3 separate regions of the Homo sapiens genome follow, and regions 2 and 3 are each reported to be linked to region 1. The links are microRNA targets in miRTarBase. Many come from high-throughput screens and were not tested one by one. Region 1 holds a microRNA gene; each other region holds the end of a gene's coding sequence.

What was found. Region 1 holds the annotated microRNA hsa-miR-4524a-3p (UGAGACAGGCUUAUGCUGCUAU, at 5,423-5,444, opposite strand). A microRNA usually pairs through its seed, bases 2 to 8, with sites in the 3' UTR of a target mRNA and lowers its output. Matches are read on the target gene's strand: a 7mer-m8 pairs with bases 2 to 8, a 7mer-A1 pairs with bases 2 to 7 and ends in A, and an 8mer does both.
Region 2: miRTarBase lists MTO1 as a target of hsa-miR-4524a-3p. Seed matches in the 3' UTR shown: 8mer at 6,557-6,564, 8mer at 6,403-6,410, 8mer at 4,271-4,278 and 8mer at 1,476-1,483.
Region 3: the mRNA of EDA2R is a reported target of hsa-miR-4524a-3p. Seed matches in the 3' UTR shown: 7mer-m8 at 6,580-6,586 and 7mer-A1 at 6,459-6,465.

What each region holds. Positions count from the first base shown.
Region 1 is chr17:69,094,148-69,105,088 of GRCh38, forward strand. It overlaps MIR4524A (microRNA 4524a), which reads right to left and starts at 5,485; the gene lies at 5,417-5,485. It overlaps ABCA6 (ATP binding cassette subfamily A member 6), which reads right to left. Exons shown (of 39, transcript NM_080284.3): 21 at 8,688-8,821; 22 at 6,650-6,787; 23 at 3,773-3,880; 24 at 2,481-2,654; 25 at 2,093-2,206. MIR4524B (microRNA 4524b) reads left to right here and starts at 5,395; the gene lies at 5,395-5,509. It also overlaps the pseudogene SEC24AP1. RefSeq lists an enhancer at 9,501-9,795.
Region 2 is chr6:73,498,512-73,509,452 of GRCh38, reverse strand. It overlaps MTO1 (mitochondrial tRNA translation optimization 1), which reads right to left. Exons shown (of 12, transcript NM_012123.4): 12 at 217-8,879. The coding sequence ends at 8,718. Among named protein-coding and RNA genes, the nearest start is that of EEF1A1, 17 kb to the left of the region's middle. RefSeq lists a silencer at 5,700-5,900.
Region 3 is chrX:66,591,098-66,602,038 of GRCh38, forward strand. EDA2R (ectodysplasin A2 receptor) reads right to left here. Exons shown (of 7, transcript NM_021783.5): 6 at 8,377-8,763; 7 at 4,540-6,996. The coding sequence ends at 8,387. Among named protein-coding and RNA genes, the nearest start is that of EDA2R, 43 kb to the right of the region's middle. RefSeq lists a silencer at 10,571-10,670.

The DNA.
Region 1 (10,941 bases):
TCACAGTGAGAACACCTTAATCACCATGTTAGTTCACAAGCCTAAGAAGTGGTTCTGCATTATCATCTTTCCTTAGAAAGAACAAAGTCAAATTTCTTCTTTTGTTCATCTATTCACTTGCTGCCGTATATACAAGGGGCATTCATAATATGATAATGCAGATTCTGTCTTCTGCCATTTTTTGAAGGAAAGTTCCTCTCACTGGACTCTCACTCCTTACTCCACAATGGGAAAATGGTTTCTGCTCTCTAAGCCTAGAGATGAAACTTATTGTTTTGGAAGATTCTGGCCTATTAAGTTCTAGAAGTTCTGTCACAGTCTATGGAATTGATGCACAGATTTGAAATCCTGGAACTTGGCTGAGAAAATCTTGTCTATAATGTTTTCCAACCCAAAGCATCACTATGGAGCCTGCAGCCATGAGGAAATTAAACCTGCTCAGCTTCTCCACTAAAAGCTAAAAGGCAAGGGCTGAGGTATGTTTCTATCACTGATGCTGAATGCTCTCTTGTCTGAGAAATTTCCAGCTCTATACAAACTGGGATAAGTTGTGAGTATACGGTAAGCCAGGGGCAACTATTTCATGAGGCACATAGCAAAAAATGTGTCCATCTAGATGTGCATTTGTTCCAGTTTGGAATGATTTCTGTGTAATAAGGGTCAACACAAGGAGTGGCAAAAGCCACAAAAGGAAGCTTGATTCCAGCATGCTGTTTACTTAGGACTGAAGGACAAGCTGCTGAAAAAGCATCTATGAGGGGCACTCACTAGGGCATCTGCAGCATCACTCAGGCTGGCAGGAGCAGACCCATGCGCAACCACGCTGGACAATAACCCTGACATTTCTTGGCTATCACCTCCAAGGTAGACTTCGTTCAGAGCTAAAACTACTGGCAAACACTAAGAATGAATGTGAATTCTTTGTTCACCTTTGCTAGACAGATACAAGAGTGCTGACTGAAAAGAAACCAACCAAGTGTCAGTAAGACTCTCTTCTACAGACATCTGATCTAGCACCTGAGATTACACTGGACAATGGCAGTAAGTCTGTTGACTGAACAAAAAATAGTCTCCATGGAAAGGATAAATGGAAAGACCTTTTGTGCACCAGATCCTCATGGCTGCCTCAAAGCCAGTTTTTCCGAGTAAGGTGAGCCTAATGTTCTTTCTGTAGCCTCTGTACTTCCACTGGATTGTGCTGATGGTGGTAAGAGATATAGTTATAGACACTGTTTGCTGAATACAAAGAAATATAGCCCAGAGAAGTCAAACCCAAGTGCTGTCCACTGAGAAGGAACAACAGCTACCTGCTGGCCAAAAGAGTCCCAGACTAATTTCTTGTAGAAGTCAGTGGGTCGTATAGGTTGGTGCAAAAGTAATTGCGGTTTTGACATTACTTTAAATAGCAAAAAAAACGCAATTGCTCTTGCACCAACCTAATATTAAATATATCATTTCTTATAGATGATCTTTGGTTGGGTTCTTCTCATGGATTCAAGATTCCCATTCCAAGAGTTGAGAGCTGTTTTCCAGACAGACATTCAATCACCAGTTGAGGATATCAGTTAAAGGAGGCCTGAAGTGTAGGACTCAGGGCACTCTGGTGTCTCTAGAATTTCAGCAAACATTTCCAGCAAAGTTTTCCATGATTTTGGACAAGCTCTTTACTTTTATACTAACAAGTAACCTGGCATAAGTATAAAACATCTTTAGTATCTGAAACTATTAGCAGCTAAGGTTAAGAGAGACCTTCTTGAAGACTGTAGAGATGGGTTGTAATGTCAACTGTTAGGAAGCCAATTTTCTAGTGTTGGCAGGAAGCCCTGTATTCTGGAGACATAAACTCAACAGGACGTTTCAGACGTCAGGTCTTCTGTAAGATTCTCCATAAATTCTGTTCAATGGGTAGCACCTGATTTCTTTAGAAATATTATTGATTCAGTAACAGTGTTACACTTCCCTCTCTTTTCTATGGTGTAATTTTGAAGTATTAATTTTCCCTACTGTCTTAAGGCAGACATCTGTATTTAAGATTACATTAGAAGTTTAAAAAATAACACTATTTCTCTATTTGTATGTATTATATACTTACAAAAAAGAAGTAAAATGACCAAAGGCCACTGTTTTTTCTCCTTTTGCGAAAAATAAATGATATCATATATATGAAGAAGACAAGAGAAGCTGCATAACCAGGAGTAACTATAACCTGAGCATAAAAGAAATAATAACATAGTCAAAAAATCAAATATTACTGAGGGAAAAATTAGATTACAACTTTTAAAAAACAAGTAACCTGGCATAAGTATAAAACATCTTTGGTATCTGAAACTATTAGTATTTATCATACATGCACTTTGCATGTTTTTTGTTTTGGTTTATTACAAAATATGAATTAAAACATCTTAACTACTTAAAATAACAATGTTAAAATTTATTATTAATTACTTTATGAAATTTGGTTTATGTACTGTGTTACTTACCAAAGCAAACACAATTTGGCTTGTAATAAGAAGGTACTGCATGTTTTCTATGTAGAAAATTAAATACATTAAAAGGAGAATTAAAATGAAGAAGCTGACGTCCACTAGTGCCTGCCCACACCAGTAAGCAGAAGTGTAGAGGCCTGAAATCCATAGCTGGGACTTAGCATTTTTCTGATTAAAAAAAAAAAGAAAGAAAGAAATGTATATAGATTCAATTAAAATGCAAATCTAAAATAAACACAAACACATTGGAAGAATTTTTAAGATAAATATAATCTAATCTTCTAATATTAAAAAAAATTATGCATATACTGCTTAGTAACATGAGGCTTATAGAGCCAGTTCCATGGTTTACAAGGTGTCTATCAAAAATAAAATGTATACTGTGATAGGCCTGACTCATAACACAACTTTAGCTCATGAATAATGAAAAGTGGACCTCATAATGTTCAAGGCATTAAACTCTATAAAAATAAGTATTGGCCAGCATGGTGGCTCACGCCTGTAATCCCAGCACTTTGGGAGGCCAAGGCGGGTGGATCACAAGGTCAGGGGATTGAGGCCATCCTGGCTAACATGGTGAAAGCCCATTTTGACTAAAAACACAAAAAGTAGTTGGGCATGGTGGTGCAAGCCTGTAATCCCATCTACTCAGGAGGCTGAGGCAGAAGAACTGCTTGAACCCGGGAGGCGGAGTTTGCAGTGAACCGATTTTGCACCATTGCACTCCAGCCTGGGCAACAGAGTGAGACTCCATCTCAAAAAAAAAAAAAAAAAAGTATTATTTTGTGACCTGGAGGACATAATACATTTACCTTTACCTAAACATCTTGGAGAGTTTCTGGCTCAGGATGGTGAACGTTGATAGATTTAACTGCTTTGTCTGAATAATGGGCATAATCGAATACAAATATAACATAAAATTGCAATTTCCAGAGTGGAAAAGGAATTCAAGTCTTAAATTTGGCCTTTGATTTCAACATCAATGATTTCCTTCTTGTGGCTGGGAAATAATGTGGTCAAAAGATTTATAATATTTCCCTTTGAAGGTTTAGACTAATTGGAGTCTCTGAAAAATCACTGTACTTTTCAGGTGACTTTGGAATAAAAAGCATTTTGAGTTTTTAGAAGTAAATTATCTGACTTGCCAAGAATAAGGTTTAGCTACAATATCTAAATTAAACATACATTCAAATGTTTTTGTCAGAAGAAAACATTTTGAACACATAGCATTCAAAATACAGATATTGAAATTCCTGAAATTTCTTCTTTTCCCTGCTTTTTCTTACCTTGTAATCACTGATGCTGCCCATGGTGATATAAGGAGAAATGCTACATAGAACCAAAAATAAGAAAAAGGAACCATCCGGCAACCCAGTCCAGAGTCCTATGTGGCTCTGAAAATATAAAGGGTAGCTTAAACTAGTGAATATTTGTTAAATGAAACAAATAATTATAGCCACAAAAATGCACTTTTTGAAATGTTGAAAAATCAAAGTAAAGGTGTAGCTCATTACCATCTAGGCACGAAGGTGGGAGGGAAAGTGACTCTGATCTTCAACTCAAAGAACAAAGAGAAGTCAAAAGTCATTTAGGACCTACTTCTGGGGATATTTCCAAAAGAATTGAAAGCAAGCTCTCGAAGAGATACCCTCACATTCATATTCATACCAACAATACTCACAAGTGGAAGCAACCCAAAAGTCCAAATTAATGGATTAACAAAATGTGTATGTATATACAAACAATGGATACTATTCAACCTTAAAAAGGATCACTTGAGGTCAGGAGTCTGAACCAGCCTGACCAACATGGTGAAACCCCATCTCTACTAAAAATACAAAATCAGCCAGGTGTGGTGGTAAATGTCTGTAATCCCAGCAACTTGGGAGGCTGAGGCAGGAGAATCGCTTGAATCTGGGAGGCAGAGGTTGCAGTGAGCAGAGATCGCCCCATTGCACTGCAGCCTGAGCAACAAGAACAAAACTCGGTCTCAAAAAAAAAAAAAAAAAAAAAAGAAGGAAATCCTGTCACATGCTACAACATAGACGAACCTGGAAAATATGCTAAGTGAAATAAACCAGTTACAAAAAGACAAATATTCCACTTATATAAGGTTTCTAAACTAGTAATATTCATAGAAACATAATAGGATGGTTATTTCCAGGGGATGGGGGAGGGGGAAAGCTAATTGGCATCGAGTTTCAATTCCGCAAGACGGCAAAGTTCTGGAGATGCATTTCACAACAATGTGAATATACTTAATACTACTCAACTGTACACTTGCAAACAGCTAAAATGGTCAATTTTATATCATGTATTATTACCACAACAAAAAAACAATAATTCAGAAGTTAGGACCTCTGATGAACATATAATTCAGGCCTGAGTAGCACGTCTTTCTGAGCAAACCCAGAGATGGAAACCTCAGTAGCTGGGTGGATGTGTTCTGAAGCACAGAACCAAGAAGAAAACTTGTTGCTGCTTGTCTTAACTTCAGGGAAAGGAACTTTAAATCACTACCCCCAAATCAGCATCCACTTGAGGCTAGGCCAAGTGGACACTCTAGCAGCATCTAGGACCACCTCATGGATATAATTACAGGATAACAGCATGAGCCTGTCTCAAAATAATTCCACAATTATTTAACTTTATTTAAGACTTTGAGGGCTATGTCTATAAATTCTGTTTTTCATCATAGGAATGAGGGAGGAAAGGTGTGTGCCATGGGGAAGTGGGAGTGGGGAACAGGTTTCTAATAGAGTAGCTATGGGCTTCAGTCCATTTTGATCCTGAGCAAACACAATGGCATTAGGAAGCTAATAATTCAGAAGTTAGGACCTTTGATGAACACATAATTCAGGCCTGAGCAGCATGTCTTTCTGAGCAAACCCAGAGATGGAAACCTCAGTAGCTGGGTGGATGTGTTCTTTTGAAGGATAGCAGCATAAGCCTGTCTCAAAATAATTCTGCAGTGAGACAGGTTCATGCTGCTATCGTTCCAAAGAGGAAGGGTAATCACTGTCTCTTTCTGCTACTCCTCTGGTTCCACTTTCTGGAGAATTCCCTTCAGACACCCCTTCCCTCGAGTCATCCTGTGCAGCAGACCTGTTTACGTGATCAGTCGGTCATACTCAACTCACGGAGGTATGTGTCTGTCACGAACATCTCAAGTACTGTATATTTCATCCCCATTGTTCCCATGGCTTACAGAAAACCTGTGCTTGCATATACTCCCAGCACCACTGATTCAGTGAAGCCAAAACTGAGCTTCACACTTTTGTCACAAAATGGACTTCCCTTTGGATGGCTTCATTTCTAATCCTGCTTCTTGATGTTTCAGACTTCTGGTGTGAAACAGTTGGAGTCAGCTTTGAGACACCCCTGTTGGTATCAGGCAGGGTCTAACCAGAAAACCATGACTACGTTAAGTTCTTAGAGTGCAATTCCTTATGACATGGTTAGGTGGGTGATGAGCATCCCACAAAGATGGTGAAGTGAGAAGCAAGCTATTGTTGCTTCTGGGCTTCAGGAACAGCAGAAGGAGGTGATGTGACTGGAGCCCAATGTAGGGGGTCCTCTGCTCTTCTGTCTCCCACCACTGCTTTCTAGTGTCCAAACTGTCTGAAGCCAGACTATAGCCAACTGACACAGAATCCAATGCAGCCTGTGTGTATTAGGCTCCCTCACAACATAGAGCAACTATGAGTAGGTGAATAAATAAATCAACAGATAGCCCCAGAACTGGCAGATTCTCCTTCATATTAGTCTGTCTACTACACATTTAGTCAATGGAGGGTCCACTAACTAATTATAATAGATTTATATGTAACCAGGGTTACAAGTTCTCCTGATTTCCAAGTCAGTGTTTTCTTTTTTCTGTTTCTCTTTCTCATACACTTCCACAATCAAGTATGTACAACTTTTCAAAACATTGCCTAGAAGACTGACAAAATATTGAAAAGTATTCCCTCACGATAATTATCTGATAACTTGGCAGGAAAAAAAAATCCTGTTTTGTTTGCTATAACCCATTGAAAATATTAGGATAAAATAATAATTTTCAGGCTTAACAATCACTTATGGATATTTAAAAGCTAAAGAGAGAAAACATAGGCTATTTGTCCAATTCTTAATTGTTTAGACTCAGTAAATCCAATACTTACAAGAGGAAATGGGCTTGACTCAATTCGAATATGTTGTGTGTGATTAAACATTTGAAGTAGCCCATTGCTGATAATATTCATAAGAATTGGAAAACAGTGCAATCTCTTGGTATTACACACAACTGAAAATCTATAATCCTTAAAACAGAAACAAATAAATAATGTTAATGCTAAATTCTTAAAGAACAAAGGCAAGGTTTATGTATAAAAGATCCTAACAGTGCCACATGCTTGTTGTGTGTCCATCTTCAAGTGAACTAAACTTTCTGAGCTTTACCTTCCTCATCTATGAAAAGGAAATACTAAATGGGTTGTTATAGGGCTTAAATGACACTCTATTCATGTACATTAAGCTCTAGCACAGAGTCAGCATACAATCAATATGAATTTTTATTTGTATTACTAATTTTAGATAATTTTGTCTCCATTTTGCTGATGGGGAAATTTCATTTAGTAGAGTTTAAAAGTCTCCCTGACAAGGAGATGCTGTCAGTTTATGATGAAGAAGCAAAGGAAGATTGGGCATGGTGGCTCACACCTGTAATTCTAGCACTTTGGGAGGCCAAGGCGGGCAGATCACTTGAGGTTAGGAGTTTGAGACTAGCCTGGCCAACATAGCAAAACCCTATGTTTACTAAAAAATACAAAAATTAGCCAGGTGTGGTGGCACACATCTGTAATCCCAGCTACTTGGAAGGCTGAGGCAGAAGAATCACTTAAACTCAGAAGGCAGAGGTTGTAGTGAGCTGCGATCACACCACTGCACTCCAGCCTGGGTGACAGAGCGAGACTCTGTCTCAAAAAAAAAAAAAAAAGCAGCAGCAGCAGCAAAGGAATGCTGGCCTTCTGGATAGGAGATAAGCATGGAGTTCATTAAATATTCATCCTTACCCTGCCAAAGAAGCATTTCCCCACTTCCTAAAGCAATCTTTATATTTATGTACTTCATGTTTAGGAAAATGTTCATTAATCTATTAGAAGGTTTATTGTTTAAATCTTACCACTAGTTCATGTAGTAAATATGTGAGGTATGTAACGTAGTAGCTGACAAAGTAATTTCCCAAAACTGGCACAAAGCGATTACATTTTTTATAGCATATTTAGTTTATGTAGAACGGAATTCAGTAATACAACTTCAAAGGCTTTTCTTTTTTAAAAATTTACTTTGTAGCATGAAATAAAGAGGGAGCTTCACTTAATTAGGCCCCTTGCTTTTATTAGAATGCAAATAAGACTGAAGAGTTCTTAACATTAAGATGTATTTTTAAACCGAGCACGGTAGCTTATGCCTGTAATCCCAGCATTTTGGGAGGCCAAGGCGGGAGGATCACCCAAGGTCAGGAGTTCCAGACCAGCCTGGCCAACATGATGAAACCCACTCTCTACCAAATATTCAAAAATTAGCTGGGCATGGTGGTGCCTGCTTGTAATTCCAGCTACTCTGGAGGCTGAGGCAGGAGTCACTGGAACATGGGAGGCAGAGGTGTAGTGAACCAAGATACTGCCACTGAGCTCCAGCCTGGGTAACACAGCAAGACTCTGCCTCAAAAAAAGTATTTTCAATAGTCTTGTTCTCTAATGAATCTCTATGGCTTGACTCTTTTACCCAAATCGACATATGCTAAGGTAGCAGACTGAGAATACTTTTTTCTCAGTTATTTCGTGTAGATATTATAGTATTTAATGTATTTTCTCAATATATAAAAACAAACTTTATTCAGGTAGTTAGCTACTGAATAAAATTCCTTAAATCCATAATTATATTGGTTGATAATTATAAGCTATAATATTTTTATTGAGTTTAAACAGTACAATTAAATTTAGATCCTTTCAAATGTAAAAGTTATCTAATTCAAAACAAAACTAAGATAGAAAATGTTTTACAAAAACTTAGGTAAACTTCACAGTTTATTAAATAACAACCCAGAATGTTTTTCTGAGTCAAGTTTCTGTATACTAGCTTTAATTTCTGCAGTTTTAAAACAGCTAAAATGTAGTACTTTTTGTTTTTTTCATAAAAGCAAAAAGGCAAACATACCTTTTGTTTACCAGAAACTATGATAGCTCCATTGTATGAGAGGCCATCAGTACCATTTCTGTTTTCAAAGTCATCTACTTCCAAAAGTATATTTTGATGCTTCAGTGATTTTATAAAATCTTCAATATTTGATTCTAATATGAAGTTAATAAGAGAAGGCCATAGAAAAGTAAGAAAATACATATCAAACTTTTAAAATAAGTCATATACATAATTAAAGTTAATATTTATGGAATACTATGTATAAATGTCTTTCTTTGGGTATCACAATAATAATATTGACCCACACTGTACCATCTTCTATTTAGCAAATCTTATACCACAATGAATTAGCTTTATAAATCTGTTTAATGCAAATTAACATGTAATCATAAAAATAAGCTAATTCTATTGTATGACTTTTGGTAAACAACAACAACAACAACATTTGAATTGAATAATCTGTGGAGATACAATAATTTTATGAGGAGTACTTCAGATTGTCCAGCCTAAAACAGCCAATGATAACACTCTTCTCTCTTCCTTGTTCTTCCAAATAATGGACAAGTAAATATATATGTGTCTGTATAACACATACATATGTTTTACTTTATTCTAAACATTTACGTACATATTCCATACATGTATGTTGTATAAATATAATCTTTCTTAGGAAATGAAAAAGGATGCCATCATCAGATCAAACTTTTAGATATGACCCTGAAGAAGAAAGCAGATGAGAACGTCTGACCGTGAAATACGAGCTGAGAAAAATTCACAGCCTAGAGCACACCAGAGCAAGCAGCTGAAGGTAAAACCAATTTCCAGGATACCTGAACTCAGAGTGGATGAATGCAAGGGGGTAAGGTATGCTCTGAAGCTATAGTCAGGGTCGTGACGTATACCTGGGAAAAGATGACCCGTCAGGCCCCTCCCCACGTTCCACACAGAACACACAGTAGCCGCAGTTGTCCCCAGGGTAACAGTCCCATATTTACTTACTGAGAGACCTTATCTGAGGAGCACAGCTGGGCAAACCTGAAGTAACTGCAGACAATAATTTGAGCAAGATGGAATGAATAAGAGGAAAAGAAGGACTTTTTTTTTTTTTGCCTTTGAAATGGGAGTTTATAGTGGGCTCTGGGATTGGAAAAATAAGGCCAAACCTTAGATGAATTAGGATCCCCCAACCAAGTGATACAGGAACATGCACATAGAAAATAAGCTTTCCATGCACCTTGAGCAGCCACACACCCCACTCCACCTCCACAGTCACTTGAGGTGCAATGCCATATGGTGACCCACATTCACCTAGGCAGACAGGGATGCTCACATTAAAAGATAAACGTGTTACCAATAATTGGCAGATTTTGAGAAAAGAGGAACAAAATGGCACAGAAGCTTCAAACTTAAACCATAAAATACCTAAGTACAGAGACAAAATAAATATATTAACACAAGCCCACTGCCCTCAAGAGTGACCAAAGAGGAAAAGAGAGACCTAATTTACTTATCTTATGAGCTCATAGGTAAAGAAACCTTTCTAGATCTCAGAAATTAAACATACAATTAGCATTTAAGGTAGTGAGGTGAATAAAATTTACTTTCCAAAACCCAAATGGAAAACAAGAATGAGAAACGGAAAGGGAAAGACTGTCTTTGTTTAAAGAGCATACACCGCAGGCCTGAATCGCAAATCCATGGGAAAATCAAATGAATGAGGAACTCAGCAAGGGAAGACTCTTACTGTGATTTTTTTTTTGTTTCTTTGTTTGTTTGTTTGTTTTAACATCTGAGGTACTAACATAAAAGTTCCTTCTTCAAAGTTAATTAAGCGGTTAGGAAAAAAACAAAAAAACAAAAAAACAATTACTGGCCGGGCGCAGTGGCTCACACCTATAATCCCAGCACTTTGGGAGGCCAAGGAGGGCAGATCACTTGAGGCCAGGAGTTCAACACAGCCTGGCCAACATGGCAAAACCCCATCTCTACTAAAAATACAAAAAAAAAAAAAAAATTAGTCAGACGTGATGGCACGTGCCTGTAATCCCAGCTACTCGGGAGGCTGAGGCAGGAGAATCGCTTGAACGTGGGAGGTGGAGGTTGCATTGAACCAAGATCACACCACTGCACTCCAGCCTGGGTGACAGAGCAAGACTCTGTCTCAAAACAAAACAAAAACAAAACCAATTACCCATTGTTTGGGATAACAAAATAAGGCATCTTCCTGTATCTTGTACTTAATGAAGGGGCATGGGGAATAGATAGGCCATCT
Region 2 (10,941 bases), not on the chromosome of region 1:
AATCTTTGTATTAGGAATTAAAAGTTTCTATTTTAGCCAGTCATGGTTTCCCTAAAAGAGTTCATGTAGTTTTGCTTTTGTCAAACTTTACATTTAAAGCTAACTCAAAACAGATAAAAGCACAATATGCAGCCTGGATTTTCCTTTAACACAATCTCTTTTGAGACATTGTCCGAAATATGGGTTATTGCTCGTATAAAGCGAAATAGACTTAAGTCAAAAGTAAGCAGTTTCATTTATTCCAGTGAAAAAAGCGTATAGAAGATTGTGTGGTTTTCAGAGGTTAAATACCAGATGGCTAATACCAAATGAAAAACATAAATAAAACTTGGTTATATTTTCAGTACAATCATGTGATTGAGGGAATATCCTAGTTGGTGTTGGGATAAACCAAGTTACCATGTAAGCAATTTGAGTTTGACTTCTAGTGCTGTCTGGAGGCATGCAAACTGAGGAACTGGTTCTCAGCCTTCTGGTGAGGGCATCTGCAACATTTTCTGAGGCCTGGATTGTAACCATATGGGTATAACAGTGCAGCTATATTGGTGCAACAAAAGAAGAACCTCGTGGAGCATTGACCTACAGTCCCCATCTTTAGCCATTATCATACCTTCTTGATTGACTCTTTGGACTTCCCTGTTGAGCCTCTTGCAGGATTCTATATATAACTAGCAACCCAGTAAACATCTGATGAGAAATGAGGTGATTTTTATTCATTTATGGTTGGGTACAAAGAATGTTTTCTCATAGCTATCTTTATGTTGAAGTTAGGGATGCATTTCTTAGAACTCAATTTCTCATTTTGTATAACTGCTCATCAGTATTTTTCTTCAGAGCTATAATACCTCTGAATTTTCAGTTAAACTGCCCTCCTTGAGGTTGTTTCTTGTGAAACTGGAAATACAGAAAATTCCAACAGTTTTCTTAAATTACTTGAAACACCACATACACATAGCACAGTCTGGTCTTGTGTCAAAATACAGTATATTCTAGAAGTGTTTCCTTTTAAATTTAGCCAGTGTTTTTTTTTATGTATCTTAATTTACTGTTATAAATTTGGATTGCCCATGTTTTAAAAGGATGTAGACCAACTCTAAAAGAGAATTCTAAAAGCAACCAACATAATTAAAGACTAAAAATGACTTAATTACAAGCCACTGGACTAAAAAATAGTTGTTTAGCCTAGCAAATTCTAAGAAATTATTATTGTCTTCAGATATAGGAGGAATATTTTAAGTCTGCAGAGGGTGCTGTTCAAGTGAAATTCACACTCTGAATTCCCCTACAGCCTCCAAATTCTGGGATAACCTTTGAAATAGAGTGAGTGCCATAATGGCTAATTAAGCATGGCACCTCCATAAATGCTTAACCTGAAATAGGTTACAAAGGATTGGAATGGGAACTGAAGGTTAAGAGAAACAGACTTCCAGATTGTTCAAAAGGGATGGAGAATTTTTTTTTTTTTTTTTTTTTTTTGAGACAGAGTCTCGCTTTGTCGCCCAGGCTAGAGTGCAGTGGCGCGATCTCGGCTCATTGCAAGCTCCGCCTCCTGGCTTCACGCCATTCTCCTGCCTCAGCCTCCCGAGTAGCTGGGACTACAGGCGCGCACCACCACACCCGGCTAATTTTTCGTATTTTTAGTAGACACGGGGTTTCACCATGTTAGCCAGGATGGTCTCTATTTCCTGACCTCGTGATCCGCCCGCCTTGGCCTCCCAAAGTGTTGGGATTACAGGCGTGAGCCACCGCACCCTGCCGGGATGGAGAAACTTTTAATCCAGTAGAGGACCTCTGGTCCCTAGGAGGGAAAAATCCACTGAAAGTGGCAGAAAGGTGTTGTGAAGTCAGAAGACCTGAGATCTATGCTCAACAGCAACTTGAAGTTAGACTTTAATTACATCACCTCGCAAGGCTAAGTTATATCTATAAAATTGGAGCATAGGAAGAGATCAGTAAGACTTTAAGTTTTTAAAAACTTTTTAGAAAAATTCTTACTCTGAGGAATACACAGATCCTAACCTGTTGGGGTTTTCCTGTCAGAAAGTAGTGCTGTTCAAACAGATTGTGTTTTTTCAAACTTTTGACTGTGATCCACAATAAGAAACATTTTCATTTATTTTTTAGAGACTGGGTCTTGCTCTGTTGCCTAGGCTGGAGTACAGTGGTATAATCAGAGCTCACTGCAGCCTTGAACTCCTGGGCTCAAGTGATCCTCCCACTTTGGCCTTCCAAAGTGCTGGGATTACAGGTGTGAACCACCATACCTGGCCTGAAATACATTTTATATTGCAGCACAATACAAACACACACACTGTATTTCATTGCATCTAAGATGTTTTTCAGTCACAAATGCTGCCAGTTATAACTGTCAGATGCCATTAATTGTAAGACATACTCCAACTTAGAGATACTAAAATATGGAAAGATGTGCATCTTAAAATTGGTGAATATAGACCGAGCGCGGTGGCGCACGCCTGTAATCCCAGAGGTCATCCACCCACTTTGGGAAGCCAAGGTGGGTGGATCACCTGAGGTCAGGAGTTCAAGACTAGCCTGGCCAACATGGTGAAACTCTGTCTCTACTAAAAATACAAAAATTAGCCGGGTGTGGTGGCACAAGCCTGTAATCCCAGCTACTCAGGAGGCTGAGGCAAGAGAATCGCTTGAACCCGGGAGGCAGAGTTTGCAGTGACCTGATGTTGCGCCATTGCACTCCAGCCTGGGCAACAAGAGCGAAACTCCATCTCAAAAAAAAAAAAAAAAAAAAAAAGTGATAAAACACTGTATTAGTTCATTTTCATGCTGCTGATAAAGACATACCTGAAACTTTAATTGGAACTTTAAGTCCAATTAAACCTCTTTTCGTCCCCAAAGTTCCACATGGCTGAGGAAGCCTCAGAATCTTGGCGGGAGGCGAAAGGCACTTCTTACATGGGAGTGGCAAGAGAAAATGAGGAAGAAGCAAAATCGGAAACCCCTGATAAACCCATCAGATCTTGTGAGACTTATTCACTATCACAAGAAAGCATGGTAAAAACCGGCCCTTGTGATTCAATTACCTCCCTGTGGGTCCCTCCCACAACATGTGGGAATTCTGAGAGATACAGTTCAAGTTGAGATTTGGGTGGGGACACAGCCAAACCATATCAAACAAAGAACATAAAAATTTCCATCTTGGCTGTGCACGGTGGCTCATGCCTGTAATCCCAGCACTTTGAGAGGCTGAGGGAGGTGGATCACGAGGTCAGGAGATCGAGACCATCTGGCTAACATGGTGAAACCCTGTCTCCACTAAAAATAGAAAAAATTAGCTGAGCATGGTGGCACGCGCCTGTAGTCTCAGCTGCTCGGGAGGCTGAGGCAAGAGAATCACTTTAACCCAGCAGGAGGAGGTTGCAGTGAGCCGAGATAGTGCCACTGCACTCTAGCCTGAGTGACAGAGCGAGACTCCGTCTCAAGAAAAAAAAAAGAAAAAGAAAAATTCCATCGTAACCATTTGTAAATGAACAGTTCATTGGCATTTAAAATATTCAAATTGTTGTGCAACCATCACCATCAACCATCTCCAGAACTCTTTTCATCTTGCAAAACTTGAAATTCTGGACTGGGCATGGTGGCTCACCCCTGTAATCCCAGCACTTTGGGAGGTCGAGGTGGGCGGATCATGAGGTCAGGAGTTCGAGACTAGCTTGGCCAACCTGTGAAACCCTGTCTCTATTAAAAATACAAAAATTAGCTGGGCATGATGGCAGGCGCCTGTAATCCCAGACTCAGGAGACTGAGGCAGAAGAATCATTTGAACCTAGGAGGCAGAGGTTGCAGTGAACCAAGATCACACCATTGCACTCCAGCCTGGGTGACAGTGTGAGGCTCCATCTCAAAAACAAAAACAAAAACAAAACAAAAAAACTGAAATTCTGTACTCACTAAAGAATAGTTTCCTGTTTCTCCCTCCCCCATCCCCTGGTAACCATCATTTTACTGTCTCTATGAATTTGAGTGCTCCAGGTAACTCTTATAAAGGGAATCATACAGTATTTGTCTTTTTGTGACTGGCTGATTTCAGTTAGCATAACTTTTTCAAGGTTTATCCATGCTGTAGCATGTATATGAATTTCCTTCCTTTTTAAGGCTGTATAATATTCCATTGTATGTATATGCCACATTTTGTTTATCCTTTCATTCATTGGTGGATACTTGGGCTACTTCCAGCTTTTGGCTATTGTGAATTAATGCTACTTTGAACATGACTGTACAAATTTTTTTTTTTTGAGACAGTCTTGCTCTGTTGCCCAGGCTGGAGTGCAGTGGCTTGATCTCAGCTCATTGCAACTTCCATCTCCCAGGTTCAAGCGATTCTTGTGCCTCAGCCACCTGAGTAGCTCGGATTACAGGCGCATGCCACCACGCCCAGCTAATTTTTGTATTTTAATAAGAGATGGGGTTTCAACATGTTGGTCAGGCTGGTCTCAAACTCCTATCCTCAAGTGATCTGCTTGCGCTGGCAGATTTGTAATCCCAAAATGCTGGGATTACAGATGTGAGCCACCACACCTGGGCTTTTTTTCAGGCAGGGTCTCACTCTGTTGCCCAGGCTGGAGTGTGGTGGCATGCTATCAACTCACTGCAGCCTCAAACTCCCCGGCTCAAGTGATTCTCCTGCCTCAGCCCCCAAGTTGCTGGAACAACAGGTACGTGCCACCATGCTTGGCTTATTTTTGTATTTTTGGTAAAGACGGAGTTTCGCCATGTTGCCCAGGCTGGTCTTGAACTGCTGAGCTCAAGTGATCCGCCTGGCCTCCCAAAGTGCTGGGATTACAGGCGTAAGCCACCGTGCCTGGCCTGTCACAAATATTTTGATCTCATTTAATTATTCACTTGAGTTTTAGTAATACCATTTCTTGCCTTTAGTAGTATTCATTAATCTATTTAAAAAGCACGAGTATCTACAACTGTGATATTGCTTATATTTACAAGGCTTATATCTTCTTAAGGTAGACAGATATTAACATTAAGGTAGGGCCAGGCACATGGTGGCTCATGCCTGTACTATCACCTACACAGGAGGCTGAAGAGGGAGGATTAATTGAGCCCAGGACTTTGAGACCAGCCTGGGCAACATAGTAAGACCCCATATCTACAAAAACTTAAAAATTAGCCGTGCATGGTGGTGCACACCTGTAGTCCCAGCTACTTGGAGGGCTGAGATGGGAGAATAGCTAGAGCCAGGGAGGTTGAGGCTGCAGTGAGCTGTAATCATGCCACTGCACTCCAGCCAGGGTGGCAGAGTGAGATCTTGTCTCTAAATAAAAACATTAAGGTAGAACGAAGTAAGTGTAATAATAGAAGTATTGTGGAGAGGGAGTGTAAGAGGAACAATTAATTTTCACTGTGTGCATTCCAGTGTTAAGTGGCTCTTCCAGATCAGAATAAACCCCTAGTCTCTGCTGGTGGCTTTCCTGATACTCCTGACCACTTCTTCTGGACAGGGCATTCTTCTAGGAGTTGAAATTTCTGAAGTAGAAAAGCCATGGCTATTCCAATCTAGGTTGAAACTAAAAAATGACAAAATACTTTTAAAACCATCAGTAACAAAATTTAAGCTCTTGGCTATAAAGGAACTTCATTTTCAAGGCCATAATCGTTTAATTTAGCATAGGTTCGTATCTTCATCCTTCCTCCCCCAGTAATTTTACAAATGCTTAGTGTTTCTTAGTCATTTCTTATTTTTTGGTGTTCCTGTTGAATTGAATTGAAAAAATACCTGGCTTTTTCAACTGGTAGGCAGTCTGGTCTGTGGTGAATAGAGGAAGTCACAAGTATGGCCAGCTTTCGTTGGCAGCTGATTATTGTCAGTGATGGGATTTCTATGAAGTAACTACATTGAGTAAGGTTACATTTTTAGCTGATTTCTTCCTAGGGCATCATATTCTGTAGTACTTCTGCATAGCAGCACCAGAGGGTAGGCTGTTTTGACATATTAAGTGATGTAATTTTGTTTAAGTTAACATACAAACATTGTGGATTTAAAGAGGTTTCAGGCCACGTGTGGTGGCTCATGCCTGTAATCTGAGCACTTTGGGAGGCCAAGGCAAGAGGATCATTTGAGGCCAGAAGTTCAAGACCAGCCTGGGCAACATAGTGAGACTTCATTCCTACAAAAAATTTTTTTAAAACTTAGCCAGGCATGGTGGCATGTGCCTGTAGTCCCAGCCACTTGGGAGGCTGAGGCATAAGGATCACTTGAGCCCAGGAGATCAAGGCTGCAGTGAGCTATGATTGTACCACTGCACTACAGCCTGGGCAACAGAGTGAGACCCTGTCTCTAAAAAATAAAGAAGTTCACATCCTAAAGCAAATCATAGAATCTAAAATATGTATTTTCCATGAAACATTTTTCAGTGAGACAGTTACTATTGTAATGGAATAGCATTACAAACCTTCATTACTAAGAAACTTTAAAGTTTCTTTATATGTGTATAGTGTCACTAGCCCCAAATTGTAGCTGTCAAGAACCTCCCAAAATATTTGAACTTCCTGTTTCTTTTTTTTTTTTTGAGACAGAGTCTCACTCTGTTGCCAGGCTGGAGTGCAGTGGCATGATCTTGGCTCACTGCAACCTCTGCCTCCTGAGTTCAAGTGATTCTCTTGCCTCAGCCTCCTGAGTAGTTGGGACTACAGGCACGTGCCAACACACCTAGCTAATTTTTGTATTTTTAGTAGAGATGGGGTTTCACCATGTTGGGCAGGATGGTCTCGATCTCCTGACCTCGTGATCCACCTGCCTCAGCCTCCCAAAGTGCTGGGATTACAGGCGTGAGCCACTGTGCCAGGTTACTTCCCGTTTCTTTAAGATAAATTTTTGTTATATTCTATTCAAAAGGCACTCCATTCACTTTTTTTACTCTTGTATTTAATCAGAAAAAAAAGTTTAGAAACAATGAATTTCATTATTTTGCTGAACGGGTAGCACAAAAACACAAAATACCTTCTTTTCTTTTTCTTTTTTTTGAAACAGTCTCACTCTGTCGCCCAGGCTGGAGTGCAGTGGCACAATCTCAGCTCACTGCAACCTCTGCCTCCTGGGTTCAAGCGATTCTCCTGCCTCAGCCTCCTGAGTAGCTGGGACTACAGGCTTGCTCCACCACGCCTGGCTAATTTTGGTATTTTTAGTGGAGATGGGGTTTTGCCATGTTGGCCAGGCTGGTCTTGAACTCCTGACTTCAGGTTATCCACCCGCCTCAGCCTCCCAAAGTGCTGGGATTACAGGCGTGAGCTGCTGCAACCAGCCTCTTTTCAAAATATATACACAATGTGGTATTGTAATTAATATTGTCTCTGTAAGAAGAATTTTGCCCAGGAGTAGCTATGACTAAAAGTTACGACCTTTTGAAATCACTGAATCAAGTATTAAAAAATATTCATCATTCCTAAATTATCCAGCACTACAAATACTTTTTACTTGCTACTAATCTTACTGCTTTCTGGAAAGACTAAAATTAGATAAAATAAACCCAAGAAAACTAAGCTACCTCCAAGTGGCCATATGCAATTATAGTAACAAGATACTTGGTTGCCTCACACCCATAATCAGGCTTAACATACACATCTGTAGCCAAAGTGACTTTGGGGCCCTTAGAACTCTCCTGAGTACCTGCTTTGGCCCGAAGGTGACACGGGAGCTTCTCCCTAGGCTGACACCAGAGATCTGGGTTGGAATTCCAGAGACAAGCAGGGCTGTCTGGCCCATTTGGCTGTATTCATCCCTTAGTCTATTTAGAATGGTTGAGGTATCTGAGGTATCTGAGTCAAAAGGCCCAGCTGATTATCCCACTCTAACCCCTGTGAAGACATACCATTGAAGTACTGGAGAGGAAGAGGGGTACTACCACTATTCTGTTTTTTCTGTCATTCTGACTTAAAAACAGGGAAACACCACTCACCAGTTACTATGGACCTGTCTTCATTATTAAGAAATGATGGCCATGACAATTTCTTAAGAAAATATTTTTATGGTATGATATAAAATAACTAACGTTACTCAATTCTCCCATAACTAGGTCACCAAATAAGTATCCATCCACACTGTGGATAATAGGAAACAATGGTGATTTCCAATCTTTCTATTTTATAGGGCTTTCATTAATGTTCAAAACAATTACCAGTGAGGATTTCCTGAAGAAGTACAGATTTCTGTCAACTTTCACCCTACATACTATATTCCAATAGTATTAGCTGAATGATTCTGGATAATTTTATATAATCTCAAGTCTTTAGTCTTGAGAATTTAAGGGCTTTGATATTGCTTCCTAGCCTAGTATAACCAAGCAAAAGATTATTAACTCTCAAAACACGCTGAATGATAAGACTTTTAATTTGGTAGACTTAATAGGCAAAGTCCCTATGAGTAGGCAAATCTGCATGTTGAGTTTTATTCCAGGTTCAGTTTTAGGTTCACTGTCTCTCTCTTTGATGAACACTGCACAAAGTTATTTGTATTACAGCTCCTTAAAGAAAGAGTACAAATTGTTTACGACTAGTTTTTTCATATACACGAAAAAGCACAATTATAATTTCTGTCCCACTCAGAAATTAATGGCAAACCCATAGTAACCTAATAAAGCTATTTTAACATGTGCTAAATAATTCTTTTATCTATACTGTTGTATTGATCAAATTATTTATATGCTCTTTAAAAATCTTTTATGAATTGAAAGCTATAACTCTCTCTCTTGAAGTCTGTCTGCATCACATAAGTATTGATCAGTCTTGGATGATTCATTCATAGCCGACTGTCTTCGTTGAGTGGTCTTCACAAATCTCAGCAGATTGATGATGGCGGCAGGTGTTACTCCGGGTATGCGACTAGCAGCCCCGATCTAAAAATCAATACCACAAGAGAAACTAAGTGAGCTATGCTATGTCAAATCAAATCTATTTTCCTCCAAATAACAATCTGTATAGTATAGTTTATACAATATTTTCTTAATTATTATTTTGATGTATTATCTTAACATATTTCCTTGTAAAGTAGATAAAGGAAATATTATTATTTATGTCTTCATTTTACAAATGGGAAACTGAGGCACAGAAATGTTAAAATAGCTTGTGCAAGATTACATAACTAATAGATGTTAGAGTATCTACTTTTTTGTCCCATTAAACTAAGAAAAACTGTAATCAAGTTCCTTTCTTCAAATACAGGTCCACAGTCCCTTATTTGAAATTCTTGAGGCCAGCCTGGGAAAAATAGTGGGACTCTGTCTCTACAGAAAATAAACAAAAATTAGCTTAGGATGGTGGTGCACACTTGTAGTACTAGCCTCTCAGAAAACAAAGGTGGGAGGATCACTTGAGCCTGGGAGGTCGAGAATGCAGTGAGCTGTGATTATGCCACTGCACTCCAGCCTGGGTGACAGAGTAAGCCCCTCTCTCAAAAAAATAAAATGAAATGAAATCCTTGAAGCCATATGTTTTTGTAATAAGATATATCTAATCCTTGAGGCGGTACCTAATGTAACAGCCTCAGCAGTGTGTGGGGCAGCGCCCCACATTTTTAATCCTATTAATATTTCTGCAGTGTATTTTTACAGTGAAATGTATGAATATTCACTCTGAACAGTATAAAGACCATATAGCCTCTTCTGAGCTGAGCTCAGTTTTGCTACCAAATGAGCTTGTGGCAAACTTCTGCCAGAGCCTTTTGTATTATAGAATTGTGGGCAAGGAGTTCTGAACTCCTATGACCAGTGCTGTCCAACTGAACTTTCTATGATGATGGAAATCTTCTATAACATGTGCACTGCAATAATGCAGTGTCCAATATGGTAGCCACTAGTCATATGTGGCTACTGGGCACTTGAAATGTGGCTAGTAAGACTGAGGAACTGAATTTTACATTTTATTTAATTTTTTTCTTTTTTTTTTTTTTGAGACAGGGTTTCACTCTGTCACCCAGGCTGGGATGTAGTGGTATAATCATGACTTGCTGCAGCCTCTACCTCCTGGGCTCAAGCGATCCTCCCACCTCAGCCTCCCAAGTAGCTGGGACTATAGGTGCATGCCACTGCACCTGGCCTATTTAATTTTAATTAATGTAAATAACCACAATTGGCGAGTGGCTATCATGTTGGACAGTGTGGCAGTGTAGCCTATGATTATCCATACAAACATAACCTGAAATCAATAGGAAGGGACAAAGTCATAAAATTTAAGGCTTATTTTCCTGGTTTCCATGATGACTGTTGCTAAGAATACCATCTTATATTAATGAAATTACTCCTCCCTGTAAAAATAGTTTTTTTCAAATTTTTCTACAGTCTATATTTTTGTAATATGCCCCTTTATTTTATGAAACACTACTAAAAAAAAAATGTCCATTAAACTGTGACACACCATCAATTTTTGAGATAGTAAAGATGCAACTGGCCAGGCACGGTGGCTCACGCCTGTAATCCCAGGACTTTGGGAGGCCAAGGCGGGCAGATCATGAGGTCAGGAGATCGAGACCATCCCAGCCAACATGGTGAAACCCCGTCTCTGCTAAAAGTACAAAAAAAAATTAGCTGAGTGTGGTGGCATGCGCCTGTAGTCCCAGCTACTTGGGAGGCTGAGGTAGGGGAATCGCTTGAACCCAGGAGGCAGAGGTTGCAGTGAGCCGAGATCGTTCCACTGCACTCCAGCCTGGTGACAGAGTGAGACTCCATTTCAAAAAAAAAAAAGATGCAATTTTAGAGATGTTAAAATGTGGAGAAAAGTGTATTTCAGAATCAGTAAGTACAGTTTATCAGTCTTTAAACATTTATTAGAAGCCCAATACTAATTACTATATAGTAAATTAAAAGTTTATTTGTTTACACAAAGGAACATGCATATACCCTCTCACAATTAGTCTGAAGCACGTGGTGGGGGCATTTTTTGGCTCCCCTCTTTCTCCCATTA
Region 3 (10,941 bases), not on the chromosome of region 1:
GTTGGGTTTGGATTTGGTTTGTTCTTGTTCTGTAGTTCTTTGAGGTCTGGCCTTAGATTTTCTGTTTGTGCTCTCTCAGACTTTTTGATGTAAGCCTGTAGGACTATAAACTTTCTTCTTAGCACCACCTTTGCCATATCCCGGAGGTTTTGATAGGTTGTGTCACTATTGTAGTTAATTTAGAAGAATTTTCTAATTTCCATCTTAATTTTATTCTTGACCCAATGCTCACGCAGGAACAGGTTATTTAATTTCCACGTATTTGCATGGTTTTGAAGGTTCATTTTGGAGTTGATTTCCAGATTTATTTTACTGTGGTCTTAGAGAATGCTTGATATAATTTCAATTTTCTTAAATTTATTGAGGCTCACTTTGTGGCCTATTATATGGTTTATCTTGGAGAAAGTTCCATGCGTTGTTTAATAGAATATGTATTCTGTGGTTGTTGGATGAAATGTTCTGTATATATTTGTTAATTCCATTTGTTCTAAGATGTAGTTTAAATCCATTGTTTCTTTGTTGACTTACTCTCTTGATGACCTGTCTAGTGCTGTCAGTGGAGTACTAAAGTCCCCCACTCTTACTGTGTTGTTGTCTATCTCATTTCTTACGTCTATTAGTAATTGTTTTATAAATTTGGGATCTCCAGTGTTATTTGCATATATGTTTAGAATTGTGATATTTTCCTATTTGATGAGGGCTTTTATCATTTTATAATGTTCCTCTTTGTCTTTTTAACTGCTTTTGCTTTAAAGTTTGTTTCGTATGATATAAGAATAGCTACTCCTGCTTGCTTTTGGCAGCAGATAGTTGGTTAGTGAATTCTTATCCACTCTGCAATTCTGTACCTTTTAAGTAGAGCATTTAAGCTATTTACATTTAATGTTAGTACTGAGATATGAGGTACCATTCTATTCATCAGGCTATTTGTTGCCTCTATACCTTGGTTTTTTGTTTGTTTTGGTTTTTTAAATTGTATTTTTGTTTCATAGGTCCTGTTAAATTCATGCTTTAAAAAAGTTATGCTTTGATGTGTTTCCAGGATTTGCTTCAATATTTACAGCTGTTTTTAGCAGTTCTTGTAGTGCTGGCTTGGTAGTGGCAAATTCTCTCAGCATTTGTTTGTCTGAAAAAGTCTGTATCTGTCCTTCATTTATGAATCTTATTTTCACAGGATACAAAATTATTGGCAGATAATTGTTTTGCTTTAGGAGACTGAAGATAGGGCCTTAATCCTTTTTAGCTAGTAGGGTTTCTGCTGAGAAATATACTGTTAATCCGATAGCTTTTCCTTTATAGGTTACCTGGTGTTTTTGTCTCACAGCTCTTAAGATTCTTACCTTCTTCTTAACTTTAGATTACCTGATGACAGTGTGTCTAGTTGATGATCTTTTGGTGATGAATTTCCCAGGTGTTATTTGTGCTTCTTGTATTTGGATGTCTAGGTCTCTAGCAAGGCTGGTGAAGTTTTCCTCAATTATTCCTCCAAATAAGCTTTTCAAACTTTTAGATTTCTCTTCTTCCTCAGAAATGCCAATTATTCTTAGATTTAGTCATTTCACATAATCCCAGACTTCTTAGAGGCTTTGTTCATATTTTCTTATATATTTTTTGTCTTTGTTGGATTGGGTTAATTCAAAGACCTTGTCTTGGAGCTCTGAATTTCTTTTTTCTACTTGTTTGATTCTATTGCTGAGACTTTCTTGAGCATTTTGCATTTTTATAAGTGCAATAACTGATTTTATATAACTGATTTTATAATAACTGATTTTATAATAACTGATGATATTTTGACACTAGTATGTGATTTTGGAAACTCCTAGGGAGACTGTCTGATGTAGTTTTCCAAGCTGAACACTATGAGGGACTCAAGGGGATAAACATCCTCTTTTTTGAGGCCTGTCTTAAGGAGGCATCTGTGGTGTAGTGGACAGTGCTGGGCCTCAGAGTCACAGTCTTGGGCTGAAATTCAGCATATCACTTGCTGCTGTATATTCACAGAAAAATTATTAAACCTTTGTGAACTTTAGTTTCTTCTTTTGTTAAATAAAGATTGTAAAAAATGCCTACCACCTAGGAATATCATGAGTATTAAATAAGACAAAGTATGGAAGTAAAAAAGCACACCAGCAATAATCACTAAATATTAGTTTTTCATCCACCTTCTCTTTCACTGCACTACTCCTTAGAAAGGAGGTCTTAAGGAAGGTAATTTGCTCTCACTAGAAACCACAAGGAAGAAAGGCTTTGTAGAAGATAACCATGTGACTGCACAGCTGCCCTCAGTGGGGATCCATTTTATCTGGACAGGCAGCAGGTGAACCCCTAACACTCATGTGTACACAATTTCTGAGGACTTAAAAGCCTAACTGCTGGGTACATAGAAACTTGCCAATCACACTGTGAGCATAAAATGCAGTAGCATCATACCAGCCCAGAAATATGCAAGTGATTTTAGTCCCTAATGAAAAGGTTATTAACAATCACCTAAGAATCTTGTCTGACAGTTTGATGACTTGTTTGCTGCTTTGATCCATCTATTCCCAGAGATCTGGTTCCCCATGTCCTTCTGGGGTATACAGTGGGGGCTCACTGCCCTTTGACTGACACAGGCACACACAAATCAACTCCAAAACAGAGAAGTGTTGCCTAAATGCTAACCCTTCCTATGCCTTTATCATCATCCATAAATCAGAGGATTCTGTTTCCCCCACTGTACCACCATTCATAATTTTATCAAGTGAGAATGCAAGGCCCAGTTAGGATTTAAAAAATGCCTTTTCTCAAATAGAGGCATGATAAATACACAAGTTCTGGCCTCTTACCTCCTGGTAATTCCAGTCACTTCTCCCCCATTCTGTAGTGGTTCCCTCAATAAGCCCTTCTACAGCCTGTGATAGTTATTTCCCAATATATCTTTTCCTATGCACACCCCTAAGCCTTAGTGGTTTCCTCCGTCCTTTCTCCTTTGGTATGAGTGATACCTCCTAAATCGTCCTCCTCTAAGTTCTGCCTAGATGTTTTCTCTCCCTCTTTTCTCTAGGCTACATAGGGTCTAGAGAGACTAAAAAGAAGAGAACGGAAAAGGACTCAAGTTCTGTCTCTTTCTTTTGCTCTGAACTGAGCAATTAAGTTGTGAGTGTGTGTGTGTGTGTGTGTGTGTGTGTGTGTGAGAGAGAGAGAGAGATTGGTTATGGAATCAGCCCTAGTAATGAACATTTTTAAGAAAGTAAATTAGTAAACCAATAGCAGTCTACTCAGAGATCAGAGATCAGTAATCATAGAATATTTTTAAAACAGCTTTATTGAGGAATATTCTAAATATTATAAAATTCATTCATAATTTCATGTATACAAGTCAATGATTTTTATTAACTTTATTGAGTGGGGAAGACATCAGCATAACTAAATCTTAGAACATCTTTATCCTTTAAATAAGATCCATCATGCCTATTAACATTTAATTGTTTTTCTCATGCCCATTCCAAGGCAACCATTAATCTACATTCTGTCTTGATTAGCATGCTTTTTATGGATATTTTATATAGATGGAATCATACAATATGTGGTCTCTTGTATCTGACTTATTTTACTTGACATGATTTAAGGTTCATCTACAATGTATTATGTGTCAGAAGTTCAATATTGTTTATTACTGAATAGTATTCTATTATATGTATATACCACAACTTTTTATCTGTTCATCAGTTGATGGACATTTGGGTTGTTTCCACTTTTCGGATATTATAAATAATGTTTCTATATTTGTATACAAGTATTGTGTGTACATATGTTTTTAATTATATTGAGTATATATCTAGGAGTGATATTACTGGATCATACTCAAGTTTAGCTTTTAGAGAAACTGTCAGACTGTTTTGAAAAGAGGCTATACCATTTTATAATTCTACCAGCAATACATGAGGCTTCTCATTTCTCCACATCCTTGCCAACATGTATTGTTGTAAAGATTACAGAATATTAAAGATGGAAGGAAACTTGATTTTCCTATCTCTTAAATTAAATTATAGTAAAGTATAGCATTCAAAATTAAATAGTTTCTCTTTAGGTGGTCTCTTTAACCTGGTAAGATTATCAACACAAATACAGACCTTGAAATGGCAAGGCAGTACTCTTAACAGGTCTAGCTAGAATATGCTTGTATTTTAAGACATTATGATCAAAATGAAAACACACACACACACTGAAATTCCTAAAGATTTTGCAGACCTCAGAAGATGTGCAGTGCACGGTTCCCTTAGGACCATGGAACCCTGTTTGATAAGTATTAGTTTAGAACACAACAATTTCTAGTAGATCCTTATCTCAGAGGAGAATATAAATGGCATAAACAATTTTAGAAAAAGAAAGAGAGCTTGAACTATAACCCAGATCTCCTGTGTGACAAGTCAGTGAATCCCATCACTACTGATGCCATGTCCAATGATCAGAAACACATTTTTTTGCTGTGCTCACTAAGAAAAGACACATGAGCAAAATGATTCACCAGGTTCTCTGAAAGTAGAGGAATAAACAAGGTTTTTGGATATATTTCTGTTTATTGGCCAATATGAAATGTTTGCAGAGCATCATAAACAAACATAGCCCTGCCAGTATCTACACATGCATATGGCTCAAGAGTTAACAAAATTTCTATAAATAACCCATTTATGAGAAAAAATAATTAAAATGTACCAATATTCAATGTAAAACACTGAAGACCTAGCTAGTAGGGTGGGGTTGGTAGAGAGGAGTGGGACAGGAGGGATTATGATCTCAATGTGACAGGGCTGTATGTTGTAGAGGGGTATGCTGTAGTGCTGAATCCTTTCCTAACCTGGATCTGAGAATCTTGGAGGAAAAAATTATTTTCCCAGGCTCCCTCCTGTCAAAATCCAAGTCAAGGTATATGGAGAGAAAAACAGTAATCCAAAAAAAAAAAAATTCATTCTCAGGAAATACCTCCCCTTCCTTACAAACAAAAACTACATTTTTTTTTTTTGCTAGTTCATTTAGAGACAACTTAACTGCTGTTTAGGCTCAATGTATGTTGAAAATGTTTTTATCAAGTGTACTTTGTTCTTCCACTGACCAATAACCCCTTTGTAGAAAGACACATAAAAGCACAGTGCTCAAAGAAATATGCCTCAGCATTGAAAAGTAAAACTGTAAAAAGAACTCTCCTGAAGCAAATACTCAACTATGGTATTTGCCATGGCCAAACAGAAATTATAAAGACGAAAATCCTTCACTTCACCTTTACCCGAAATACTTTAAAATGCAAAGCCAATTGCCACCTCCAATTGCTGAACCTCAAAAAGTTGGAATTAAGGTGATTCTGGGTATGGCTTGGGCTGTCCACATAGCATTCATGCCATGAGCAAGCACACTGAAGAAGTCTTACTCTTTCACTTTATCATATTTTTGTTATTATTATTATTATTACTGTGTTACCATCATTATCTTTCCTCTAGAGCAGCAGTGTCAAATGTGGGCTTGAACCACTGCCAGCCACATGGCAACCTTTGAACACCTGCAGCCTGCTGAAGCCAAATCATCCCCTGTCTGGATATTATTTCTTCTACCAGAAGGTCTAAACATGATCAGTGAAAGCCAGTGAGATAAGAATAACCTGTTGCAGAAAAACAAAAACAAAAACAAAAACAAAAAAAAAACAGGAAACCTAAAGGCCAAGGCCTAAAACCTTGGTTACCACATATTTGCTAATACCTGTGTGGGGCCAGGCTGCTTGCTTGGTACAGGCTTGTATTTCAATTGCTTCTAATCCTCAGTCCAGTACAATGGGACCTTTTTGCTTTTTCCCAAGTCCTTTTAGTAATCTGATCAATTGGTTGCCCCAGGGGCCCTTAATCAGTGTTTGTAGATGGATGAACCCAAAAGATGTAGTTAATAAAATTCTAAAAGCAAAAATCTTGCTGTAGACAGCACTCCTTTGCCAGAGCTAGAACCTGGTGATGAAGTGCACATTCTGCCTAATGTACTTAATAAACCACTTAATAGTTGTGGGACAGGAACTAGCTGTACAAGTTTCAGACAGATTCTTGGAGAATAAAGAATACAACCTCTAAGGAACTTGTTTTTCTCTGAGCATGAGATGTATAGGTGGGAGCTAAAGGCAAAAAGACAATTGAGAAAGAATCAAAGGGGAACGGTGGTGAGAAAGCTGGGATTGAATTGACATTTCAATAGAAAGAGGCATACTCAGATGTCCCTACATGGATTGAGGGCTGTCTTTGAGGGACTGCTGTGGGGTAGTTTGGGGAACTCAGGCCCCAGAAGGAAGATTACTTTGGCTCAGAAATGTTCTGTAAGGTTCCAAAATGGCGAACTTCAGCCCTTCTCCCTGCTGAGGGTGGTGAGAACCTCAAATACAGGGTGAGGCCCCAGGGATCTAGAGGGAAAGTGTTTGCCCTGCCTCATGCTGCAATGCAGCAGTCTGAGACATGAACTTGGGAATTATGGCACGAGGCCTCCCCCAAGATAGATATTAATGTGTGTGTGTGTGTTTGTGTGTCTATGTATATGTGTGTGTATGTGTGTGTGTGTGTGTTGAGGAGGGAGACAGTGTGGAGGAGCTAAAAGGGGAGAAGGGTTTGATTTTGTCCCTAAAGTGCTAGGTAGATGTGCCAACACAATTTTGAGAGGCTTACCTGACCAAAAATGCAGACATGAAAACCCTACCCCATTCACTGTCCTCTCTCCTCTTCTCTATAATCAAGTTGAGCTAGGAACATGTCTGGTAGTCCCATGAATGTGGAATCTGGCTCCCCAGACTACAAAAGGGAAGCAAGAAATGCTCCAGATCAGTCCTTGTGAAATGGAGAATCAATCCTCTGGTGGGATGGGATAGGATATGCCCCATCTGTAGGGTATTAGCTCTTGTGGACATCACATTTCAGGCCCCTGCTGCTGTTGTGGTATAGGAACAGAGTCCAGAGAGAACAACTGGGCAAGGCTGCCAGGGGCCCAAGAGACCTAAGGAGAGAGCAAACCAAGTTAGAAACATGTGGGGAAATCTCACTAGCACCCTTCTTTCTCTACCCCTCCAAATATCATAGGTTAAGCCAATGGTTGAGGATGTAATAGCAGAAAGACATTACCTAGATAGGGATATGACAATTCTACCCTATTCTACATTGTTGAAACCATTTATCCTGAAGATAGGTTTAGTTCTAAGCTCCACATACTTTAGAAGAACCTAAAGTGGTATTCTCCAGAGAGGTGGTGTTGTCTTCAAGCCTCTGCAGGGCTATCTTAAAGCAGAGGAAACTGATGAGGTCTGTCTGGCACGAGGAACAGAGCCAGGATGGATAGGCGGGTACTACAGGGAAAGCTCTTTCTTACATTGAGCTCAAACCCACCAGTCACAATTGTGTATACTGTAATATACATTGAGAAGTAGTCAGCCCTCTGCCACCTAAAGTATGTGAGCAAGGACTACACAAACTCTTAGTGGGGATATTATAAAATGGACCCAAACCTTGGAAGAAGAACTGGACTAGATAACCTTGAAGGTACCTAAGTTGATTGATTTGACATCAGTTATAACTTTCAAATTTGATATCAGTTATGACTTTCAAATATACATTTGTTCACGTTTTCTTAGGTTGGATGCAGGGAGCAGGGAAGTCATTGGGAGAACTGAAAATGTATTAACTGAAGAAATACGGAAGTGGGCACTGCAAGATATTTGGTTAGTTGAAAACTGGGAATCTACCTACTCTCCTACCTCATGCTACATAAGCTTTGAGAAAGTAACATTGGCTATCAAATGGTTGCAATGGTGGAGTTGAACCAACTCTAAAATGTAGCCCCCAAACCTGGGTTCTTGCACAGTTCTAGCCCACTAATTTGCCCTGTGACTTTGAGAAACTAACTTTCCCTCTCTGTGTCTCAGTTCCTGCCTCTGTAAAATGTAAAATGAAGTGACATACACACAAGGTTTGTATAGTTATTAGGGAATGAAGGTTGATTTGAAATGTAGGGTTTCCAGATGACAAGGCTTGTATATCTTTTTCTACTGTGCTATGCTGCTTGCACACATAAAGGGAGATACCTGAATATGACCATTAGATAGTGGGGCCCTGAGAGAGCTTACGAAAGACCAGAATGGAGAGACTGGTATCATGACAACCTTGCCAGTTCCCTGACAATTGTAGACCCAGAAGTGTGATATCTGTCTGGCTTAAAAGTTTAGCATCACCACTGTTGCCCCTCCACCCAAAGTGTTCCTAGCTTGCTGCTGTTCCTCCACTCCTAGTGAATAATACTATTCCAAAAGAGAATTCCTTGAGGTTAGTCCTTAATTTCTGTTTTGCTTTTTTTGTTTTTTTCTGATCCACCTTTCCAGCTCACCTCATTAGAGTTAAGGGCTGGGAACTTCAAAGGGCACATTGAGCTCCAGCCTGTCTCCAGTGCTTTCGACTGTGTTTCCCCCCAAGGTCTCAGCTCCAGTATAGGAGGCAGAGCTGGAAAACTTTTGCAGGTCCAGCTCTGTGCATTCGATGGGGCTGTGGACCCAGTGGGAGTGGCTCTCTGAGGTGCAGGAGGCCATGGTAAAGGACTCCTGTGTGGGGAAGCCACTAGTCGAGCTGCAGTCGTCCTCGAGGATAGGGTTAAGTGGCTGGGTCTGAAAGATGTTCTCACTCACTTGGGACTCAGCACTGGTCTCCTTGCTGGGTGGCACGGGGAAGAGAGATTCCTCCTTTGCTGTTTTATCAGCCTCAAACTGCAGCAAACCTCCTGCAACTCGAAGCAGAAAGCCACTGGGTTACCCAAAAGCAGGGGCTCTTCTCAGCTGGGCACTGGGTACTGAGTACAAGACAGGTAAAGGTCTGGGAGCTGATTCTTTCCTTCCTCTCCCTGGGGTCTAGAGCACCTAGCACCAGGCTGAGGTGACACAGTTGAGAAACATACTTACATTCAGGTATCAGATTGAGGCTAGCTGGTACTGGATCAGAGAAAATAATCAATTTCTCTAGAGAAAAAGAAACCTTTGTGGGAAACAGGATTTTGATACCATCTCCCTTGCCATAATCTTCATGGCCTGGTCTTATGTCTATGTACATTAAGTTACATGGCAAACTAGACTCTGCAGATGGAATTAAAGTTATGGATTTCAAAATAAGGAGAGAATCCTGGATTACTCTATGGGTCCAATGTAATCCTGTGTCCCTAAAAGCAGAAGAGGAAGGCAGAGGAGACAGAGAGTATCAGAGAGATGTGGCATGAGAAGAACTCAACTCATCATTGCTAGTTTTGAAAATAGAAGGGGGCCATGAGCCAAAGAATGTAAGTGGTCCTAGAGGCTAGGAATGACCTTCAGCTTACAGCCAGCAAGGAAATGGGACCTAAGTCCTTTAACTGCATAGACCTGAATTCTGCCACTTTTGTGCATGATCAAGCAGATTCTCTCCCAGAGACTCCAGAAAGAAACACAGCCCTGCCAATATCTTAATTTTGGCATTGTGAGACTCTAAGCAGAGACAAAATTGAGCCTACTGAACTTCTGAGCTATGGAAACTGTGATAATAAGCTACTAAATGTGTGGCAATTTGTTATGGCCATGATAGAAAAGTAATACCCCCTTCATGCATGGATCTGGTTCAACATCAGGTCACAAACTGAGAACCTATGGGATTTGTGTTTGTCCTCTTTGCTTTGGTTGTGATTTTGCTCTTTATTCAAATTCATTGACTATGGTTAACACAACTTCATTAAAAAAAATCCAGATTTCTGAATTCTCTTGAAAATGTAGAAGATCTTGCAACATTAAATATTTCCATATGGTTACAAACAGCTGGATCCAAGTAGTGGGATTCCCCTTTAGATAAGGGATGTGCTCTGTAGTTTGCCACAGTTGCACTTTTCTCTCTTGCAACCTTACACTGGATTTAATTCGCACATACATCTCACCCCAGTATGTGTGTAAGTCAGTGACTCCTGAAAAACAGTTTTCCAAAGTAAGAAAATGTCTAGCCTTCCTAGCCCTTATAAAAACAGTGAGGAAACTGCCTGCCCTCATATTCCAAGCAGGTTACCACATTATTATCTTCAGGATAGAAGGAGAGCAGAAAAGGGTTACCCATCTCTCTTCTTCTGAGGCAGCTCTCTGATATTTTCTCATTTTCATCTTCTGGACCCTGGAGTCCAAATGCTTCATTGCTCATGTTTCATGTCCATGCACCCAGGGCCTAAGCAACAACTCTTATCTGGGACACTGGCCTCCAAAGTCAGAGACAGGAAGGTCTACCTTGAGTCACAGTGTCCCAGGAGCTAGCAAGAAGTAGACTTTGAGAAAAATCATAAAGGAACAACAGTGTTCCCCGTGTATCCTGCAGCCCATGAAATGCTATATTCATCTCCAATTAAGCCAGGGCACAACCAAACATACCTCTTGGGCTTTTCAAGATCATCTGCTAGGCCCCAGAGCCAAACTGACCCAAGGCAAATTTACATTAGCAGGATCTTCCCACACAAATACTGCAGCTTTGCACACAGTATCCAGTGGGCTGAAAAGGAGTCCTGAGCACTCTTTTATCTAGTAAACTTTATCTTCCCCCTTATAAATCAACTTCATTCTCTGATCTGAGTTCCTGTTTCAGTGTCCCTGCCTAACTCTCAGTTCCCTTAATGGCAATGAAGCTGCACTGAACCTTGGTACTCTTGGCTGGAGTTCTAACTCTTTGCCTGGTCCTGATCAGCCACATTCCCACCTCCCCCATCTTTGTCCTCAGTGAGCTGGCTTTTCTGTCCCACATTCTTGTCTAGTAGCTGAAGTTGTGCTTAATAGAGATCACAATGTTACTGTGACTTTAAATATGATTTTCCATCTGGAATTTTGCATGGCTGTCTGATATGGACTGGGCTAGACCTCTTGACATCAGTATTATCTGAGGGAGAAAGTCCAGGTTTGCCAAC